2 separate regions of the Homo sapiens genome follow, and region 1 is linked to region 2. Evidence: fine-mapped expression QTL. A gene starts in region 2. The other region holds a variant in brackets. All regions are shown on one strand. Distances are from middle to middle.

What was found. PIP is the estimated chance that this variant, and not a neighbour inherited with it, causes the effect. A credible set is the group of variants that fine-mapping cannot tell apart.
Region 1: its variant is the best candidate, but not a certain one, in a credible set for the expression of GIPC3 in blood mononuclear cells (TOPMed, PIP 0.76).

What each region holds. Positions count from the first base shown.
Region 1 is chr19:3,605,338-3,610,698 of GRCh38, forward strand. It overlaps TBXA2R (thromboxane A2 receptor), which reads right to left and starts at 1,538. Exons shown (of 3, transcript NM_001060.6): 1 at 1,193-1,538. It overlaps CACTIN-AS1 (CACTIN antisense RNA 1), which reads left to right and starts at 1,910. Exons shown (of 4, transcript NR_038865.1): 1 at 1,910-2,072. CACTIN (cactin, spliceosome C complex subunit) reads right to left here. Exons shown (of 10, transcript NM_001080543.2): 10 at 5,308-5,361. RefSeq lists enhancers at 515-1,089, 1,663-2,236 and silencers at 1,437-1,486, 1,597-1,676. The variant G/A (reference allele first, on the strand shown) is at 2,346.
Region 2 is chr19:3,582,138-3,587,498 of GRCh38, forward strand. It overlaps GIPC3 (GIPC PDZ domain containing family member 3), which reads left to right and starts at 3,341. Exons shown (of 6, transcript NM_133261.3): 1 at 3,341-3,685; 2 at 4,358-4,543; 3 at 4,677-4,857. The coding sequence starts at 3,461.

The DNA of each region.
Region 1 (5,361 bases), 23 kb after region 2:
CGAGACACACAGACACAGCCAGACACACACAGGCAGAAACACAGCAGACACACAGGCAGAAATGTGACAGACAGAAACACAGCAGGCAGACGCACAGACGTGCACAGACACACACACAGAAACATGGCAGACACACAGACACACACACAGATAGAAACATGACAGACACACAGGCAGAAATGTGACAGAAACACAGCAGACAGATGCACAGACATGCACAGACACACATACAGAAACATGGCAGATACACAGACACACACAGATAGACACACACAGAAACACCACAGACACACCCAGACAGAAACATGACAGACACACAGGCAGAAATGTGACAGACAGAAACACAGTAGACAGACGCACAGGCATGCACAGACACACATACAGAAACATGGCAAATACATAGACACATACAGATAGACACACACAGATGGAAACATGACAGACACAGACACACACAAGCAGAAACACAACAGACACACAGACACACGCAGATAGACACACACAAGCAGAAACACAACAGACACACAGCCACACACAGACACATACAGGCAGAAACACGACAGACATAGACACACACAGATACACACATAGGCACACAGGCAGAAATGTGACAGACACAGACAGAAAAACACAGACACACAGGCAGAAACACAACAGGTACATAGATACAGACAGACACAGAAAGACACACAGAAGAACACACAGTATTTAACAGTCACAGACTCTCGGCAGAAACAAACACACGGTCACACACACAAAACCACCACACACGCACAGACACAGACACACAACCAGGGCCATGCATGGTTCACTCCCAGAGACAAGATCACACACACAGCCGCACAACCACACTCGATCCCTGCCACACCCAGGGCCTGGGCCCCCTCCCCGGCTGCAGCCCCCTGAGTCTGGGACCCCCATTCACAGCCATGTGGCCCCACAGAGACCAGAGAGCCCCCCGGACAGAATCAGCCTGGGCCGCACCCAGACCCAGCCGCCTGGGCGCCCAGGGCAGGCCTCAGGGCACCATGCCACCCGCCGGGCCACACAGGGGACACCTGGCACCTGGCCGCTGTCACCGCGGGCTTTGCGACACACCCACAGCAGGGCAGGGCCAGCGCCGGATGCGCCCAGCAGCCCGGGCTCACACCAGAGCAGTGCATCCCGCCCTAAGCCAGCGGGGCGACCTCACCTTCAGAGACCTCATCTGCGGGGCTCCCACCTGGCTGGATCCCGCGCCCGGGGGTCCGGGCGCCGTCTGGAGCTGAGCAGGCAGATGTGCGGGCGCCGAGGGTGGGGCGAGGGCTGGGGGCGGGCAGAGGGAGGGGAAGGACGGGCTCGAGCGGGACCTCCCAGGGAAACTGAGTCAGTCTGGCTGTGACCAGGGGCGGGCCCAGCAGAGGACCCACACAGATGGAGGGCGTGGCGGCACAGGACGCCCTGGGGTCGCGGCCTGGAGGGGTCCGCGGGGGCTAAGCCGAGCTGGGACGGGTGGGGGCCGCTGGCAGCCCGCGGCTCGCTCTCTCCGTCCAGTCTCTGTCTCCCGCTGTCTCTCATCAGCCCCGCCCACCCTGCGCTGGCCACGCCCCTCGGGCCCGGGCCTGGCTGACTTGGAGTCAGTGGGTGCCCCCCGCACGCCGGGACACCCTACAGCCTTCTGGGGAAGGCGGCGCCCTTGGGACCCCCAGGCCACCGGTGGCAGGGATGCAATGGCCCGCGTAGGGGTGGCAGGGGCGCTTCCTCGGGAGCCTCAGCCCCTCCAGCCGCCCAGCGCCCTGCCAGGCCTCTTCCCGGCGCTCCCGCCGCCAGGCCCGCATTATTCACCATCTGGGCAGCACCCAAGGCCTGGAGGGGGCGGGGCAGGTCCAGGCGGATCGGCTCCCGGGGGTCGCCCAGACTCCAGGGCTCCAAATTCACTGGGTGCGCTGGAACGCGGCACACAGTAGTAGTATGCCCTGCTTAATACATACAGGACATATTTGAGGCCCCTTCCAGGGGTGGGGTGGGAGGACAGAGGGATGGGGGGTGCACCAGACGACACAGCCAGACTGAGAAAGGTGGTCCCAGAGCAGGTGAGCCGGGAGGGCTGGGGTGATGGCATCGCATGGGAGGGTCTCTTGAGGAGGCTCGGAGGTGGCTTTGGAGCCAGAGGAGGAACAGTCTGGAGCCGGGAGGCTGCAGTGGGGGATGGGCACTCTTTCCTGGCCACCCCCCAGCTCGGGCTGGGGAAGGAGGGATGGAGCCCAACAGGAATGGCTGAGAAGGTGCCGGACGCAGGGACTGGGACCGTCTCTTTGCAGAGGGGGGACCTTGGGCTTCCTTGGCCTTGTTTGTACACCCGAGCC[G/A]GACAGAACCTTGAGTTAGGGACCTGGAGTGGGACCGGACAAGCTGACCTTGCCCTGACTGCACCCCACCCCGTCCCCTGGGCCCGGGAGGGCTGCTAGTCCAGGCTGTGAGTGAGGGGTATTCCCAGCCTGGCCCGGCCCTCTCGTCAGCCCAGTCCGGAAGCCCCTTCCCCGGCTACCCCGCCCACTATCCTTCCTCCTCCTGGCCTTCGGCCACACCCAACCTCCCTCCCAAAGCTCTATCCCATTAAGTCACCAGCCATTTAACACAACTTCTCTCTTTCCTGGCAAGGAGGCTATCCAACTCCTATGGATGTGGCAAAACCCTGGCTCCAAGGCTGCTTTCCCGTGAAGCCGACCTAATCTCCAAGTCTTACTCTCCCCAACCCCTCTCTGTGTTCAGCTTATACAGTGGGACAATTATGAGCTCCAAGTGAGACCTGAAACCAGGCCTGCCCTTCAGGATGCCCTAGGCTGGAGAATGAACTGGACACAGGCTGTTCCAGCCCCCTGGGGTCAGGGCTGGGCCAAAGGAAGAGACAGGGCCTAGGGAAGCCCAGAGGTGAGCTAGGAAGACATCTTGTGAGGAGAGGGCATGGGAAGTGGGGTTTTGTAGGATGAATAGGAGCTCCCCAGGTCTGGGCTACGTGGCAGTGACAGGAATTGCATGTATAAAGCTTTGGAGGCAAGAGAGAGCATGAGGCCCTTGCTACACTAACTGCAAGGAGGGCAGATGTTGGGGGAGGAGGATGTGGGGCTGGGGCTCCAGATGAGGGGGCAGTGAGAGACGGAGGAAGGCTGTCCTGTCCCCACTTCCTCTGTCCTCGGCCCTGAGATAACAAGGACAATGACTCTTCTGGGAAACAGCCTGGGCAGAGTTCAGAGAAGGACACTTGCATTTAGCTTAAGCCTCACCACATCTCTGCAAGGCAGGGGGTAAAGATACTCTTAAATTTTAGAGATGGGGAAACTGAGGCACAAAGGGGGAACAATGCCACGCCCATGTGTGGGATTGGAACATGAGCACTGGGCTTCCCTGTCATCTGGGGCTGGTTGCTGGTCTCCCGGTCTTGGCCCGCCCCCCGCCCCCCACCCCCCGCCAGCACTTCGGGTTCAATGGGAGCACAGGAGGCTCTGGTGGGAGGAGTTGTGAGGGGCTGGGGGGCAGATGGTGGGAACAGAGGCCAGGCTCAGGATGTACCCCCGTGGCTGCGGTTTCCGGCGGGGGCCGGGCAGGGAGCGTCTATTCTTAGCTCTGGACACAGCCAAAGTCAGGAAGCTGGGTGGGGGCGGGGGCAGCTTCCAGGACACCAGGTGGACCTCGGGCCATGGTGGAGAGTCATGGGGTAGATGGGGGGGTGGTGTGCAGAGCCTACCCCTGGCCCCCACCTCCAGTCTGCCTGCAGGGTCTCGACACCCAGCTCGGAGGCCCTCCCCAGCTCACGCGCCCTCCGTAGCTCCCTGGTGCCCAGCTCCCCTAGGATCTGGCTCCTTAGCTTGGCCTGAGCCCTGTGTGCCCCCTGCCCTGGGCACACCTGCTGCCCTGTCCTCTGCAAGGCAGCCGTCACCCTTCTCGGCCAGCAGCCCGTCTTCCCAGGCTCAGTGCCCGTGACCCTTCAGGGGTCCCAGGGCCCCAGCTCTGCTCCCTCCAGACTGGGGCCCCTGGCAAACCATGTGTCTTGCCAGTTGGAGGACAGCCATCTCCCTTGGGGTGCAAAAGGAACGTGAGGAGGAGGAAGCAGGATGCTGGGGCTGGGGGAATCTCTGCAGGGGCAGGTGGGGAAACTGAGGCAGGGACGGGGTGGTGGTCTGGGATTGGGATTCTCCAGGGTAGAGAAACCCAGCTTCTAATACTGGCCCTGCCACTTTCTGGGCTCAACAACGTGGGCTTTTGTGAGCCTCAGTTTCCCGAGCAGCCAAATGGAAGTAAATACTGTCACATAGAGCTGGTGGGAGGTCTGGGTTAGGCCCAGTACAGGCTGGGCTGCGCCAGCCACGCACACACAACCTGGGCTGTGACTACAGAACCCGGCCTGTCCCAAACACCACTCTGGGCTCAAAAGTGCCTTCTGGTGTTGAGGATGTAGAAAGCTGTGATCACGCCCACTGCACTCCAGCCTGTCTCAAAAAAATAAAAAGTGCCCCCCGAGTCCAGCCCGGACTCAGCCCTGCCCCAGCAGCCTGTCCTGATCGGCGGTGGAGCTGGCCAGGAACCCAGGCAAGAGGCTGCCCAGAGGATTCTAAGATGGCTCTGGCCATCTGCCATCAACTTGTGATGTCTGCTGAAGGCTGGGCTGGGGATGGCAGTGTTGTGTGTGCTGCAATGCGATTTGGGATTCTGGAGTAGGCTGGTCAGGGTGGGCCAGGGTCTGCGGTGTGGAGAGCGGACGCTGATCAGATGCACTTCCCTGGCCAGTTCCCAAGCCCTGTGCCACAGACTTCCGGGATCCTGTTAGAGGTGGGGGCTGGGAGGTGACCAGTGCCCCAGGGGAGTGCAGGATCTGCCTTGCACCTCTGCCTACTGCAGTGAGGACATTTGGGGAGGCTCATCCTGGGCACTGAAGCACATTGGGCAGCATCCCTGGCCTCCACTCACTCCACGCCAGGAGCAGCCCCAAGGTGGGACCACCACGAATGCCCCCAGGCATGGCCAAGCGCTGCCCCCATGAGAGCCTGGGCCCAGGCCAGCAGCTGTGTCCACCCTTGTACCCTCCCTCCTGTCGTCTGGGAAATGGACTGTCACCCCCACTGTGGGAGGCAAGGCAGAGGGGTGGGGGGCAAAGACAGATCCGGGCACTAACACAGCTCCCAAGGGACCACCGGGCCCCAGTTGGGTGCCGTGTTGTTTCCCAGGCTCTTCCCTTGGGACAAATGCGCTGTGTCACAAATGCCAGCAGCAACTAGGGCAGCGGGTGTGGGGCGTCGGACACGTTACACTCTCTGCATTTCTGCAAACCTAAGATTATTCTAAAATACAACGTTTATTAAAAAAACATGCGATCTTGCCAATAGGCCA
Region 2 (5,361 bases):
CATCTCAGCTTCCCAAGTAGCTGGGACTACAGGTGTGTGCCACCACACCCCGCTAATTTTGTATTTTTTGTAGAGATGGGGTCTCACCTTATTCCTCAGGCTGGTCTCAAACTCCTGGGCTCAAGTGATCCTCCCGCCTCGGCCTCCCAAAGTGCTGGGATCACAGTCAAGAGCCACCTCACCACACCCAGTTTTTGGTGCTTTGTTACAGCCATCATGGGCGAGTCAGACAACCTGATACTGCCAACCCCCCTCACTCCCCACCCCAGTTTCACCCTGTCCTGGCACAGGTACCACCACCTTAAATTTAGAGTTTCTCATTTCTAGGCAGGCCTGGAAAATAGCATTTTGCAGCAGTTTTTTATTAAAAAAAATTTCAGTATACAATTCAGTAGGTTTTGGTACATTCAAAAAGCTGTGTGGGCTGGGCACAGTGGCTCACGCCTGTAATTCCAGCAGTTTGGGAGACCGAGGCAGGCAGATCACTTGAGACCAAGAGTTCCAGACCAGCCTGGCCAACATAGTGAAACCCGGTCTCTACTAAAAATACAAAAATAGCCAGGGATGGTGGTGCATGCCTGTAATTCCAGCTACTTGGGAGACTGAGGCAGGTGAATCCCTCTCTCTCTCTCTTTTTTTTTTTTTGAGGCGGAGTCACGCTCTTGTCTGTCCCAGGCTGGAGTGCAGTGGCGCGATCTTGGCTCACTGCAACCTCCGCCTCCCGGGTTCAAGTGATTCTCCTGTCTCAGCCTTCCAAGTAGCTGGGATTACAGGCACATGACACCATACTCAGCTAATTTAATTTTTGTATTTTTAGTAGAGATGGGGTTTCATCATGTTGGCCAGGATGGTCTTGATCTCTTGACCTTGTGATCTGCCTTCCTTGGCCTCCCCAAGTGCTGGGATTACAGGGGTGAGCCACCAGACCTGGCCTTTTTTTTTTTTTTTTTTTTTTGAGACAGTCTCACTCTGTTGTCCAGGCTGGAGTGCAGTGGCATGATCTTGGCTCACTGCAACCTCCGCCTCCCAGGTTGGAGCAATTCTGCCTCAGCCTCCCGAGTAACTGGGACTACAGGTGTGCGCCACCACACCTGGCTAATTTTTGTGTTTTTAGTAGAGATGGGGTTTCACTGCGTTGTCCAGGCTGGTCTCGAACTCCTGACCTCAAGCAATCCGCCTGCCTCAGCCTCCCAAAGTGCTGGATTACAGGCATGAGCCACCGTGCCCGGCCTTACATAAAATTTCTTACCTCGTCCAAACCCTCCTGCCACTTTCTTTTCTCTCCCCATGTTCAGTTTGTGAGGCTCCTCCTGGGCGGAGGCTGTGACTGGCTCTGCTGTAGGGCCCGCCACTGCAGGCAGGATGGCTGTTTATTGAGCCGACATTCCTGGGTAGGAATCTGATGGATACGTAGGTGTTTCTGACATTGCACTCCAGCGGATTTTTACCAACGCCTCCTGGTGCCTGGGGTCTCCTCCTTCATCTGTGACCTGGACATCCGTTCATTCCTCACCAAAGATCACTGGGCACCTGCTGTATGCCAGGCACTGTGCCCTGGACACTGGGCATGGGGACAGAGCAGGGGAACAGCCCCCACCCTCCTGGAGCTGACATTCCTCCAGTCCTGGGGACAAACAGGACAAAAGATGAAATGAAATATCAGCAGGGGGCTGGGGCTCAAGCCTGTAATCCCAACATTTTGGGAGGCTGAGGCGGGAGGATTCCTTGAGGTCAGGAGTTCGAGACCATCCTGGCCAACATGGTGAAACCCCCGTCTCTACTAAAAATACAAAAAAAATTAGCTGGGCATGGTGGCAGGTGCCTGTAATCCCAACTAATCAGGAGGCTGAGGCAGAAGAATCGCTTGAACCCGGGAGGCAGAGGTTGCAGTGAGCCGAGATCGTGCCACTGCACTCCAGCCTTGGCAAGAGAGAGAGACTCCGTCTCAAAAAATAAAATAAAATAAAATATCTGATATGTCAGATGGTAGCTTTAAATGCTGAAGAGAAGCTGGGCACAGTGGCTCACATCTGTAATCCTAGCACTTTGGGAGGCCAAGGCTGAAGGATGGCCTGAACCTCCTGGTCTTGAGTTTGAGACCAGCCTGGGCAACACAGTGAGATCCCAACTGTACAAAAAATTAATCATGTTTCTAAATTAAATTTTAAAAAACTGAATGCGGCCGGGTGCGGTGGTTCACGCCTGTAATCCCAGCACTTTGGGAGGCCAAGGCAGGTGGATCACCTGAGGTCAGGGGTTCGAGACAAGCCTGACCAACATGGTGAAACCCTGTCTCTACTAAAAAATACAAAAATTAGCCAGGCATGGTGGTGTGCGCCTATAATCCCAGCTACTAGGGGGGCTGAGGCAGGAGAATCGCTTGAACCCAGGAGGTGGAGGTTGCAGTGAGCCGAGATCACGCCATTGCACTCCAGCCTGGGCGACAGAGCTAGACTCCGTCTCCAAAATCAAACAAACAAACCAAAGGCTGGGCGTGGTGGCTCATGCCTGTAATCCCAGCTTTTTTGGAGGCTAAGGTGGGTGGATTCCTGAGGTCAGGAGTTCAAGACCATCCTGGCCAACATGGTGAAACCTCATCTCTATTAAAAATACAAAAAAATTAGCCGGGCATGGTGGTATATGCCTGTAATCCCAGCTACTGGGGAGGCCGAGGCATGAGAATTGCTTGAACCTGGTGGGCAGAGGTTGCAGTGAGCTGAGATCGTGCCACTGAACTCCAAACTGGGTGACAGAGCGAGACTCCAGCTCAAAATAAATAAATAAATAAAAATAATAAAATAAAATAAAACAATGACCTCGCCTAGCAGAGGGTGAGTGCTCCAGCACCCTCAGCTGTCCCTGTCCTTTTTTTTTTTTTTTTTTTTTTTTTTGCGACGGAGTCTCGCTTTGTTGCCCAGGCTGGAGTGTAATGGCGCCATCTCAGCTCACTGCCACCTCCGCCTCCCGGGTTCAAGAGATCTCAGCCTCCCGAGTAGCTGGGATTACAGGCGCCCGCCACCACGTCCGGCTGATTTTTGTATTTTTGGTAGAGACGGGGTTTCACCATGTTGGCCAGGCTAGTCTTGAACTCCTGACCTCAGGTCATCTGCCCGCTTCGGCCTCCCAAAGTGCTGGAATTACAGACGTGAGCCACCGCTCCAGGCCTGTCCCTGTCCTTATTTGTGGTCCCTGTTCTTCCAGGGTCCTGAGCTCAGGCCCCCCCGGACTGCGGGTATCCCCGGGGAGGGCACAGCTGGCCCTGGCAGGGCCCGGACACCTGGGGCCCGACCCACCCCTGCGCACCCCGCGGTGTCGCCTTCCCGGGAGGCTCGGGTTCCCAGATCCCCTTACCCGGGCGTCTCGGCTGTCGCGCCCTGGGCCGGGGGAGGGGAGGCTGCAGGAAGCGGCGGATCCGGCGGCGGCGGCGAGGGCCCGGGTGGGTGGCCGAACTTCTCCCGCCATGGAGGGAGCAGCGGCCCGGGAGGCCCGGGGGACCGAGACCCCGCGCGCGTCTGCGCCCCCGCCCGCGCCCTCGGAGCCCCCGGCCGCGCCCCGCGCCCGCCCGCGCCTCGTCTTCCGCACGCAGCTGGCGCACGGGAGCCCCACGGGCAAGATCGAGGGCTTCACCAACGTCCGCGAGCTGTACGCCAAGATCGCCGAAGCCTTCGGGATCGCGCCCACCGAGGTAAGGAGCCCGGACACCGGCGCCCAAGACCACCCGCCTGATGGGGTGAGGGGTAGGGAGCTTGGACCCTGGACGGGAGACCCCAGATCCCCGGATCCCAGACGTCGGGGTGGCCGCCTAATCGCCGGATCTCAGAGACCCAGCCCTCAGATCCCGGGGTGCCACACTCCCAGGGGCCCCCTTTGCACGCTCTGCGCAAAAGATGGGCAGGTCTTAGGACTAGCGGACCCCTAGATATTCCAGAAAATCCTCTGCGCAGACCTAGCTTGGAGCGGACCCCAGCCCTCGGGGAAGCGCCTCTGTGCTTCCTGGGCGTAGCTGGGGTCTGGGGTTCCAGATGGCCCCCTTAGGGATGGGAAGTTTGAGGCCGCCGTGGGGTTGGGGGGTTCCTGGGCGTTTTTCCAATCCGGGTTCGTTTGGTTTGCAGCCCCCAGGGGGCGCCAGCAGATTAAACCTGGAGGTCTGGGGGCTGGAGGTCCCGGGGTATGGAGAGGGGTCTCCACCTGCTGGAAGTCTCCTTCTCCCTCCTCTCTCTGTTCTGGGGGTCCCACGCCCTGCCCTTTCCCATGGGCTGGGATCCTGGTCGCTGGGGGCAGGGGCCTGCGCAGACAGGGTGGCTGCGTGGGGGGATGCATGCCCTGGCTAACTCTAGGCTCCTTCTCCCCCGGGAAGATTTTATTCTGCACCCTCAACAGCCACAAAGTGGACATGCAGAAGCTCCTGGGGGGTCAGATAGGCCTGGAGGACTTCATCTTTGCCCACGTGCGAGGCGAGACCAAGGAGGTGGAGGTCACTAAGACAGAGGATGCTCTGGGGCTGACCATCACGGACAACGGGGCTGGCTACGCCTTCATCAAGGTGCCCGGGAGGGGGTGGGCGGGTGGCTTCCTGGGGTCCAGCAACTGCCCCCCCCACTCTGGGTCGACGTGGGTTCTGCGGATTGGAGGCGGGTGGCTGGGGTTGCCCTGCCAGCGACGCTGGATCCCTGCAGAGAATCAAGGAAGGCAGTATCATCAACCGGATCGAGGCAGTGTGCGTGGGTGACAGCATCGAAGCCATCAACGACCACTCCATTGTGGGCTGCCGCCACTACGAGGTGGCCAAGATGCTCCGGGAGCTGCCCAAGTCCCAGCCCTTCACCCTGCGCCTGGTGCAGCCCAAGAGGGCCTTCGGTGAGGCGGGTGGGCTGGCGGGAGCTCTTCCCGAAGTGCGTTCTACGGATGCCTGGGGTGGAGGAGGGTCGGGGATGGGACGGGCTGGAAGGTTCTAGGTGCACCCGCTGCGTGCCAAGGAGCTCCTGGCAGGGTATCAGAAACTCGTAGGTAGTTTCTATTAATAGATTGTTATGGAGTCAGCCTGTGGGGGAGGGGTGGGGGAGAGACTGGGTAAAGTGGAGTTGGAGGAGGACGCGTCCAGAACCACTTTGGAGCCAGGCTGGGAGACTTGTTTTTGTTTGTTTGTTTGTTTGTTTGTTTTTGAGACGGAGTCTCACTCTGTTGCCTGGGCTGGAGTGCAATGGCGCGATCTCAGCTCACTGCAATCTCCACCTCCCGGGTTCAAGCGATTCTCCTGCCTCAGCCTCCCGAGTAGCTGGGACTACAGGCACCCACCATTGCGCCTGGCTAATTTTTGTATTTTTAGTAGAGACGGGGTTTCACCATCTTGACCAGTCTGGT